2 separate regions of the Homo sapiens genome follow, and region 2 is reported to be linked to region 1. The links are microRNA targets in miRTarBase. Many come from high-throughput screens and were not tested one by one. Region 1 holds a microRNA gene; the other region holds the end of a gene's coding sequence.

What was found. The annotated mature microRNA hsa-miR-5582-3p reads UAAAACUUUAAGUGUGCCUAGG and lies in region 1 at 3,265-3,286, opposite strand. An mRNA with a match to its seed (bases 2 to 7 or 8) in the 3' UTR can be bound and repressed. Matches are read on the target gene's strand: a 7mer-m8 pairs with bases 2 to 8, a 7mer-A1 pairs with bases 2 to 7 and ends in A, and an 8mer does both.
Region 2: miRTarBase lists DIRAS2 as a target of hsa-miR-5582-3p. Seed matches in the 3' UTR shown: 8mer at 2,448-2,455.

What each region holds. Positions count from the first base shown.
Region 1 is chr11:46,749,861-46,754,935 of GRCh38, forward strand. It overlaps MIR5582 (microRNA 5582), which reads right to left and starts at 3,332; the gene lies at 3,265-3,332. CKAP5 (cytoskeleton associated protein 5) reads right to left here. Exons shown (of 44, transcript NM_001008938.4): 36 at 5,028-5,075; 37 at 3,450-3,637; 38 at 2,775-2,850; 39 at 1,486-1,674; 40 at 1,258-1,395; 41 at 668-751; 42 at 414-573.
Region 2 is chr9:90,608,664-90,613,738 of GRCh38, forward strand. DIRAS2 (DIRAS family GTPase 2) reads right to left here. Exons shown (of 2, transcript NM_017594.5): 2 at 1,169-5,075. The coding sequence ends at 4,565. Among named protein-coding and RNA genes, the nearest start is that of LINC01501, 28 kb to the left of the region's middle. RefSeq lists enhancers at 4,313-4,813, 4,814-5,075.

The sequences.
Region 1 (5,075 bases):
GAATAGCTTGAACCCGAGATTGCACCACTGCACTCCAGCCCGAGCAACAAGAGTGAAACTCCATCTCAAAAAAAAAAAAAAAAAGAGGTCAGAGCAAGTGAGCAAGAATCAGTCAAAGGCCAAGAAGGAATAGCCAGTGAGACTGGAGGAAAACAAGACAGCATGGAGAACTGGAAGCGAAGTGAAGAAGCTGTCTCAAGGGCAGGGAACAATTTATTTACCATTGTCAAATACTGATGATGGGTCAATTCAGGTGGCTAAGAATTGACCACTGGATATAGCAATGGGAAGGCCATTTGGTGACCATTAAGTATTGAGGTTCATGGATATGAATTTAAACTAACCAAAACTTCAGGTTCCTGTGCTAGGAGCTATTTTGAGCTTATTCCTGGAGCTATAACAGGAAACCATACCTGTTGAAGTGGAAATACGACCTTTGCCCTCCCTCTCCATCTCAATCACCCGAAGGCCTCTTTCGACATAGCTCTGGAAGAACTGTGAGGAATTTTTCAGAAATGGTTCAATGTCAGCATCTGAGTATTTCTTCTTATATTCATATAACTCTGCTAGTCCCTGGTGAACAGGAAAAGGGAAGAGGTGGGGATGAATGTTAGTGTCCCTTTACCATAAAGCAGACCCCTATTCTGCTTAACCCTTTCACTCTCACCTCTTTAGTGTTTTCTTTAGAGCCAATCTTCTTAAAAATCTCAGCTAAGAAATCATTCACTTTGGCCTTTGATGATTTTTCATCCTGAAAAGTTGAAAGACATAGGAAGAATTGGTTAGACTTGAGTTATTAATTAGGAACTGATGGTTGGATATGAACAGAAAATATCTCAAAATCTGGGCCTTATTGGTATGTTCCTACAGATAACAGATGCACCGATGATGCAGGTCTTGCAGCAGAAGCACTAACATTCTGTGTTACTGAATGCCTCCAGTCTCAGATTTCCACCTCAACTTGATGGAGAAGGAACTGACATATTCTTTCCATGTTAAGCAGAACTAGCTATTTATCTGGTGACCAATGCCTTAGGCATCTTTCTTGGGGACCAAAAAACACATGGTTATACTTAGTTTAGATTTTAAAATTTCAAGGTGGAAATGGTTACTGCACCACAGCAGGAGACTGATTCAACCAGTCCATGAGCCTTCACCTTGGACCTTCGGAAAGCATATCCTGGTGACCTACACCTTAGATAAGATCACTTCCGGTGTAGCCTCATGTCCCTCAATCTTTCAAGTCAGGCCACTCACTATTCGAGATGCTCCCTTTTCTGTTTCCTTATCAGACTTGCTCCCAGTCTGGTCCATACTGTGCTTCATCATCCGGCAGAGATGGGCCTCCAGCTCAGACTCGTTTTTGTTGTCGATCATCGTTAGGTGGTCCAGGATCTGAGGGAGACACATGCATGACTGATAGCACTGCCATTTCCATGATTTTCTCTCAAGCTCCCTCAGAGACCAGTTGCGATTCTTACTCACCTTGGGCCCTTTTAATTTGCATAAGGTGTGTAGCAGGGTCTTTAGGGTCCTTATGGGAAATTCACTTTTGCATTGCTTCAGTTTCTCTTTGGGGAAGACCTTCATGAAAATGTGGATATCCAGAAGAATTCTGTCTAGGTTAATGCTATTGATGGTATCAGGCAACAGTCGAACCATTCTCCAGAGACACTATTGAAAAAAGAATAAAAGAGTTAGGAGTGACTGAAGAATGAGGATAATTTGTCACCATTCATCTTCCCTAAGCTTTGAGCTCACTTCTAAAAGATGGCCAGGGCTATAAATGTGGCACATCATATCTTTCAAGTTCAGCTGCTAAAACATGAAAATTTTTAATCACTTCTACCATGACACCAGCTGAAGTGTGTCCAGTCATTCATCTAATCATCCATCTCTACTCCTTCCCACTCCCCAGAGCTAGGGGCCATCATTTAACCTGGTAGAAATTCTCTCTTGGGTTTCCTTCGTTCCTGAGAGTAAAGTAGTTCATGTTGCTTAACCAAATCTAATGCAAGGGGACAAAATATCTGATACTAATTCAGTGTAATAACAGTATTACAATGTTATAAATATGTTCATTTGGTCTCTTTCACAAAAGAGACCAAATATCATAGGGCTGTAGATATCTTTTTCCCCAAAATAAATGAAATCTGTTTCAAACTTCTTTCCTTTTGATCCTCAGAGAATTAGTAAAATATTTACAAAATATTTCCTCCCTTTCACTGTTTGAGGCCACGAACTGTTTAGGCCTGAACTTAGAATATAAATTGTAGGAAGGGAAAAACTGAAGACCAATTCATATATATATATATATATATATATATATATATACACACACACACACACACACACACACACACACACACACACGTGTATTATATACATATATAACATATTAAGATATACATATATAATACATATATACATATATATAATACACATATATATAAAAAACCATATATATATTTTTTAAGAGATGGGGTCTCACTGTTGCCAAGGCTGGAGTGTAGTGGTATGATCAAGCTCACTTCTGGGTTCAAGTAATCTCCTCAACTCAGCCTCCTGAGTAGCTGCTACTATAGGTGCATGCCACTGCACCTGGCTAAATTTTTAAAAATTTATTAATATTTTTATTACGAAAAATATATTTTCAGGTGTGACTTGGTTGATTTGAGCCTATGTCTTTCTTAGCTCCAATTCCTCTTTCCCCATACTTTTAACAAAGTGATTGCATCTTTGAAAGAAAAGAGATCAAATCATTTCAACTTCACCTTCATAACAAGCTCTGAGAATTTGGGAGAACTGGCTGTTGCTAGCAGGCTGTCTTGGAGCAAAACAAGTAGGGCACTGGAAGAAAAACCCAACACAACAGCATTAAGTTTCAAACCTGCATTCCAATTAGAATCAGCAGTTGAAAGGGCAAGTGAGATTACTCTATTCATCTAATAAACTGAGAGGTCATGGATCAGGAATTGTCCTGGACTACCTGACATTCAGTTAAGAAAATAAACATTGTTTAAGCCTTTTAAGTCACCACTTGGTAAGTGTAAGGTTTGTGACTCTATTTTTCATTGTCATTGGTAGCTGAGAAAGAATAAAATGTACCTGAAATGTACAAGAAAAATGTAACTGACAAACTTTACAGTCCTATTATAGAAAATGCATGATATTGGCTGGCTAACTAAGTATTTACTAGTTTTAGCTATGGTCTCAGGCTAAAATACCTTTGGTCCATGATGAAGAAGAGTAATAAATCAACTTCCTAGGCACACTTAAAGTTTTAACTGATATAGTTATAACTGATGTAGCTATAACTTTAAGTGTGCCTAGGAAGTTGATTATGATTGTTAGGTTGCCTAGGAAGTTGACTTACGGACATTATGGTTTCTAAGTGTAAACAAAAGCGAGGATGCCCCAGGCTCTATTGGCTGAGAGTACAGATATACCTCAGGATGTTGGTCTGGTCTGACTTCTCCAGAACCTTCACCACCAAGAGGTTCACAGAGCGGATGACCTGTTGTCCTTCCTCAAGATCTTCAATCCGAGAATCCAGCATTAAGGTGATGAGGCCATGCATTAGGTCTTTTAGTACTCCAGTGGAGGCCTCCCGGGCAAGGCTCTCTATCTGAAACAGCTATCCAGACATACTTGTGTCAGGGAGGTGTAAAACTCAATATAGAGAGTAAAGAAATGTGGGTGGCATATTCTGATAAATATTCAATTATGTTGTATTTTTTTTTTGAGACGGAGTCTCCTCTGTCGCCCAGGCTGGAGTGCCAGTGGCGTGATCTTGGCTTACTGCAAGCTCTGCCTCCCCGGTTCATGCCATTCTCCTGCCTCAGTCTCCCGAGTAGCTGGGACTACAGGCACCCACCACCACGCTGGGCTAATTTTTGTATTTTTTTTTTTTAGTAGAGATGGGGTTTCACCGTGTTAGCCAGGATGGTCTCGATCTCCTGACTTCGTGATCCACCTGCCTTGGCCTCCTGAAGTGCTGGGATTACAGGCGTGAGCCACCGCGCCCGGCTATGTTATATTTGTAAAAATTCAGAGTATTAAAGAAAAAACAAAATCACCACACTCCCCCAAGCCTCTAGTAATAGGCAAAATTAATCGGTGTGCTTCTAATTGTGAAATTTTTTGTTTTTTTTTTGAGACAGAGTCTTGCTCTGTTGCCCAGACTGGAGTGCAGTGGCACGATCTCGGCTCACTGAAAGCTCCGCCTCCTGGGTTCAAGCAATTCTCTGCCTCAGCCTCCCGAGTAGCTGGGATTACAGGCGCCCGCCACCAGGCCTGGCTAATTTTTTGTATTTTTAGTAGAGATGGGGTTTCACCATCTTGGCCAGGCTGATCTTGAACTCCTGACATTGTGATCCACCCGCCTTGGCCTCCCAACGTGCTGAGATTATAGGTGTGAGCCACTGTGCCTGGCCAAAGTATTTGTTTTTACATGTGAAATTATTTACTGTTATGCCAAATTTGTAATTTCTGGCTAGTTGGTGTCATTAAGTCCACCCTTTTAGCCCCAGTTTAAGAAAGAATATTGAAATCTGAGTGAGAATGTCTTTATTATCCTTATAATCTGCTCTACAGGTAAAACATTAACAAATTTTTTCCCTTTTATTTTTAGTTGACATGTAATAATTGTACAAATTTATGGAATACAGAGTGGTATTTCAACACATGTATACAATGTATACTGATCAAACCAGGCTAATTAGCATTTTTAATAGAACCATACTTATCTGTGGAAAGGCAGCTATGGCCTACCATGCCTGATGAAGAAACTGGCCGGAAGAAGCTAGGTAGTCTGTAAGCATGTTACTTTATATCCTAACAGTAAGGTGGGATGGAGTGTAGCCAAACATCCAATGGAAGCCATCAGTAGCTTGCTATATACAATGCATGTAAAATTCTACCAAGTGACACAGGACTCACTGCAACATCTGCATGGACTCTGGCTTTTGAACCTCTGTAGGCTGAGAGATTGATGGGAAGCTGAAATTCTGCAGAGGTGCCCTTACCGAAATCATGTTGCCAATGATACAGCTATACAACTTGATGATCTCGTC
Region 2 (5,075 bases), not on the chromosome of region 1:
CTTTGACCAATCAATGATTTCCACACTTCATGCTGTGGCCCACTCCAAAACCCTTAAAATCACTAGCCCCACAGCCCTCTGGGAGATGGATTTGAGGTTTCCTCCTATCTATCTCCTCACTGGGTGACCCTACAATTAAACCTCTTGCTCTGCTGCAACTCCATGTCTCAGGCATTGGCTTGTCCCAGACTTAAAACACCATCATTTTGTCAATGAAAAGAATCACTCTATAAAATTTTTGAAGACATTTATTCTGAGCCTAATATGAGTGACTGATGATCCTAGACACAACCCCAGGAGATCCTGAGAACATGTGCCCAAGGTGATCTGGCTACAGCTTCATTTTATACATTTTAGCAAGACATAAGACATCAATCAATACATGTAAGATGTACACTGGTTTGGTCCAGAAAGGTGGGATAACTCAAAGTGGGGGCTTCCAGGTCATAGGTAGATTCAAGAATTTTCTAATTGGCAATTGGTTGAAAGAGTTAGATTATTATCTAAAGACTGGAATCAGTAGAAGGGAATGTCTGGATTAAGATAAGGGCTTATGGAAACCAAGGTTCCTATTATGCAGAAAGAATCAATAGAAGGAAATTCCTCCTACCAGACCCAAACAGTCTATCATTCTTCAGATGTTTTAATGTTAATGCTGGTCAGTTGTGCCTGAATTCCAAGAGGAGTAGGATATAATGAGGCATGTCTGATCCCCACTTCCCATCATGGCCTGAACTAGTTTTTGAGTTAACTTTGGAATGCCCTTGGCCAAGGGAAGCATCCATCAGTCAGTTGGGGGGCTTAGAATTTTATATTTGGTTTACAATTTAATAGCCTGGGGTTGTGGAGGAAAGCAGGATTAAAAAAAAAGAGAAGGGAGTTTGTCTTCACTTCTTCTATTTTGACACAAGTAAGGCCCTGCCCTACTCCTTCCCTCTCTCACCTTAACCTGTCTGGATCTTCTGCTTCATTTCCACCCAAAGACAGGGAGCAATGGGAAAGTTTCACGGGACACCCCAGGGTGAGTTATTGTTGCCTATTGCTAGTTCTGCACAGAGCCTGATATCCTCCTATTGTGGTCATAAGCACATAACAGCCGCTGAGGGGTCACCAAGTCAAGGTCATCCTAGACCAGCTAACCCCTTAAGAAATAGCACCACCTTCCAGCCAGGGTGTCATAACTGTAGCTTTATTGTAATATCTCCCATTATTTCCAGAACATCACTGGCAACTAGAAACTTGTATGCAAGGGTGATTTTTATAACCGCAGAGTAAATAAAATATAATAGAGAATAGACTTGTAACAATAAATACACTTTAAATATAAATATACACATTGATATCCCACACATATAAAAGTCATGCTCTGCAAATACTTTGTATACACACTGTCCTTGTGGGGTATGAATTCCAGGATGTGTCTTCAAGGATTTACATGTGTCCTATTAGTTGTAGATATTTCCAGAGAACTTATGTAGAAGCAACACATTACAAATTTTGGGGAAAAAAATTAAGTATCACAGAGCAATTTTTAAAATATTTAATACATTTTTGTTCTACAAAGAATGAGCATTTCTTAAATATTACAAACAGTGAAACAAATATACTAGCTTACAGATATGTACAATTTATGACTTTATACTTCAAAAATGCAGGAAGATAAATTATATATTTTATATACATGTAATTTTAGATAGAATGAACAATTCAATATTGCTCTTGTGTTGGTCTTGCTGCATTGTATGCATGCCCATGGCTTGTCGCTGGATGGAGGAGGGGCTCATGGGGATAGAAGGGAAGTCATGGAGCCCCATGCTCATGCCCAGAGCGCCATCTTCAAAGCAATATTTAATTAAATATTAACTTATTCTGCCTGGGTCAAAAACTGCTATGCCCATATGCAATGTAGGATGTGTTTTCAAGAACCACAGCTACATATTTGGGAATGGAAACGTACAAATGCTTTAAAAAAATCTAATTCTGTGATACTAACTCCTCAAACTCTGAGTCAATTGGGGATCTCCTAAAAGACGATTTTGAGATAACCATTGATATCCTCAGTTCAGCTCATAGAAAACGATCTCAAAATGAAGACCCATAATTGAGGCTTCAATAGCCTTCCTAGCCTATAAATTCACAGAAAAAATATGAAGGAAAAAATGTGTCCTGAATGAAATCAGACTTTCAGTAATTACAAACTTCTCATGCTGATGAAGCCCTGAACACTTAAACATGTAGAAACTGATTTGAAAGGGATAAAAGAAATTCTGACTTACAATCAGTAGAAATGGGATGGTTTGCAGGAATATCTCACATTAAAACCTTATTAATACTACAGTCAGTGGCAAAGATCGCATTCTACTGTTAACAAAGAACCCAATCAAAATCTATAGGTCTACTTTGGCCATGAAGTTCTGTTTCTTCTTCCATTTAACCTATACCCAAATTAAAACTTGATCATCTCTCTCTCAGAATAGAAACAGAAAAAAAATGTCGGGACAAGTTGAAAAACAAATGTTCCAGAAAATCCGCCAACTAAAGATCTCATTGCGAATGCTGTGCAACAGCTTTTTAGAACAGAACAATCCTGCTTGAGGAATCTGAAGGGGGCCACGGGACTGGCCCAAATGCTCTTCACCCCCAGCTGGCTCCCACGCCACTTCTCTGCTTTCTCAGCTCAGCATGAGTGTTCCCCCTGTAAAGTCAGGGCGGTTTTGTTCTAGGAGATCATGGAGTCAAGCAGTTCTCAAAGGCACCTCCCACGCTCTAAACACATCCCAAGGGTGAGTTATTGGGAGACCAGAGAGGATGAGATCAGGACAAGGGAACTGAACCAGAAAAGGCTGAAGAAAACTAGGACATATTGAGAGAGCAAGTGTGCTTTGGGGGATGGAGATGGCCACACTGCTGCTGCTGCAAGCCCTGCATAGGAGGGACAGGAGAAACAGCAGTTGCAGGAGGTGGCCTGGTCAAACATCCCCAACTTAAGCCCTCCCTGTGCTGACACTGCCACCCAACAGCCATGCAGCCCCCACCCCCCCAGGCAGGCCCACGTGGGACTGCAGCTCCTTCTGCCTGCCAGGCGGGTGACAGGAAGACTGCTGAGAGGATGATGCCACAGTTGGGGCCAGTAAATGTTCTGCCAACTGAAACAAACAGGAGATCTAACAGGCACTATCAGTGGGAGTTTTCAGGAAGCCAAGTCCAACCAGGCTCTACGATGGCAGAGCAATTAAGCTGAGTGGGCTCTTCCCAGGGCAGAGAAGCCTGCCTGTCTCCAGCCACCATCCTATCCCCAAGCTAACACAGGAAACCTGAAATAGCTGTAATTTGGCTTGAAAGATTAAAGATGCACACAAAATCATTAAGAGAAAAAGATAATTGTTTCTAGAGTGAATACTGTATTGAACAGCTCTTAGAAGACACGTATAATGGAACATGCAAGAGAATTTACTATTATTTAAATGCATTTTCCAGGAACATATTTCCAATACAGATAGATCATCAAAAACACAGTGAATAACTTCTGTTTCAAAGTATTTCATTAAGGTGCAAAGTGTGGCATATACATGTTTGTGACACTACAAAAATGGATGTGCTTCTGGTTGTCTGATGGCCTTTGCTGGCTGCTACCCAGCTGGGTACAGATCGAGTTATTTAAGAGAAGAAAACCACCTTGGAGGAAAAAAACGTCTAAAAATAGTGAGTTTATTTGCTTGTATTTAAAATCTGAGGGCTGAAAGAAGTTATACTCCTCACAGGTCAAAAGAAGAAAATCACATTTCTAAAACCCTCGATGTATAACACACAGGAACATTATTGCGATGTTTTAATACTGTCACGATATCCTCACTTAAAAACTGAAGAACTTCCGACAGAGCAGCACACTGTTAGTGCACTTATCCCTGCACATGAAGATAAATACTCTAATAGCTTAAAATGATACTTCCTAACTAGGTCTAGGTAAGGTGAACACATCCCCTCAGGGTAGCAAGGCTCCTAACAGGCCAGGTGGGAATTAAGAACGGACACCCTTTGGGGGAGAGGCTGTGTTTTTTAATCCCCTTTAAAAAAGTGTAAAATGGACCAAGTGTGGTCCACTTTGGACCATCTGATCTTCTCACCTCTTCCTGCCCCTCCCCTCCCCCAAAGATGTGATTGGCTTCTGTCTGGGGTTGGTGCAGGTAACTCTAGGTTAACACGCTCTCACATGCACGTAGATGACATTTAGTCCTCTCGGTACATGTTGCTTTGTGGGTACCAGTCCTCCCTCCCACCTTCGGGTGTTCATCGCCACCTTCAGCAATTGCTGGCACCTCTCAGTTCCCAGGGATGCTGAGTGTGTTGGTTTTCACTTGAACCGCCTGGCAGATTCTGTGACTCCAGAGTGGGTGGCTTACTGTTGGTGGTGTGAAACGCCCTCTTAAGGACAATAGGACGCATCTCGATTAAATGCAATGTTTAACACGTGGGCATTATACATGCTACCCTGACGACGGTGGGTGTCATTTTGGGGGAGTGAGGTGCCGGGGACACACAGCTGCTCCTCCCGCAGGAAGGGCCTTCACATGATCACGCACTTGCCTTTGAGCTTCTCTTTCCTTTTCTGCTGCTTGCTCTTTTTCCCGTCGATCTGGAGACTCACGGTCCTGCGCTTCTCCAGGTTGAGCAGCTCCTGGAAAAGCTCCTTCACGTTATGGTTGAGCTTGGCTGAGGTCTCCATGAAGGCACACTTCCATGTGCGGGCCAAGGCCTCCGCCTCGCTGCTCTGCACCTCGCGGCTGGGGCTCTCATCACACTTGTTCCCCACCAGCATGATGGGGATGCTCTCCACGTCCCCTTTGATCTCGCAGATTTGTTCGTAGATGGGCTTGAGCTCCTCCAAGGACTGTCGGCTGGTAATGGAGTACACCAGGATGAAGGCGTGCCCTTTGGAGATGGACAGCCGCTGCATGGCCGGGAACTGGTGGCTCCCCGTCGTGTCGGTGATCTGCAATGTGCATATGCTCTTGTCACAGCTGATCACTTGCCGGTAGGTGTCTTCCACCGTCGGGATGTAGCTCTCCCGGAATGTG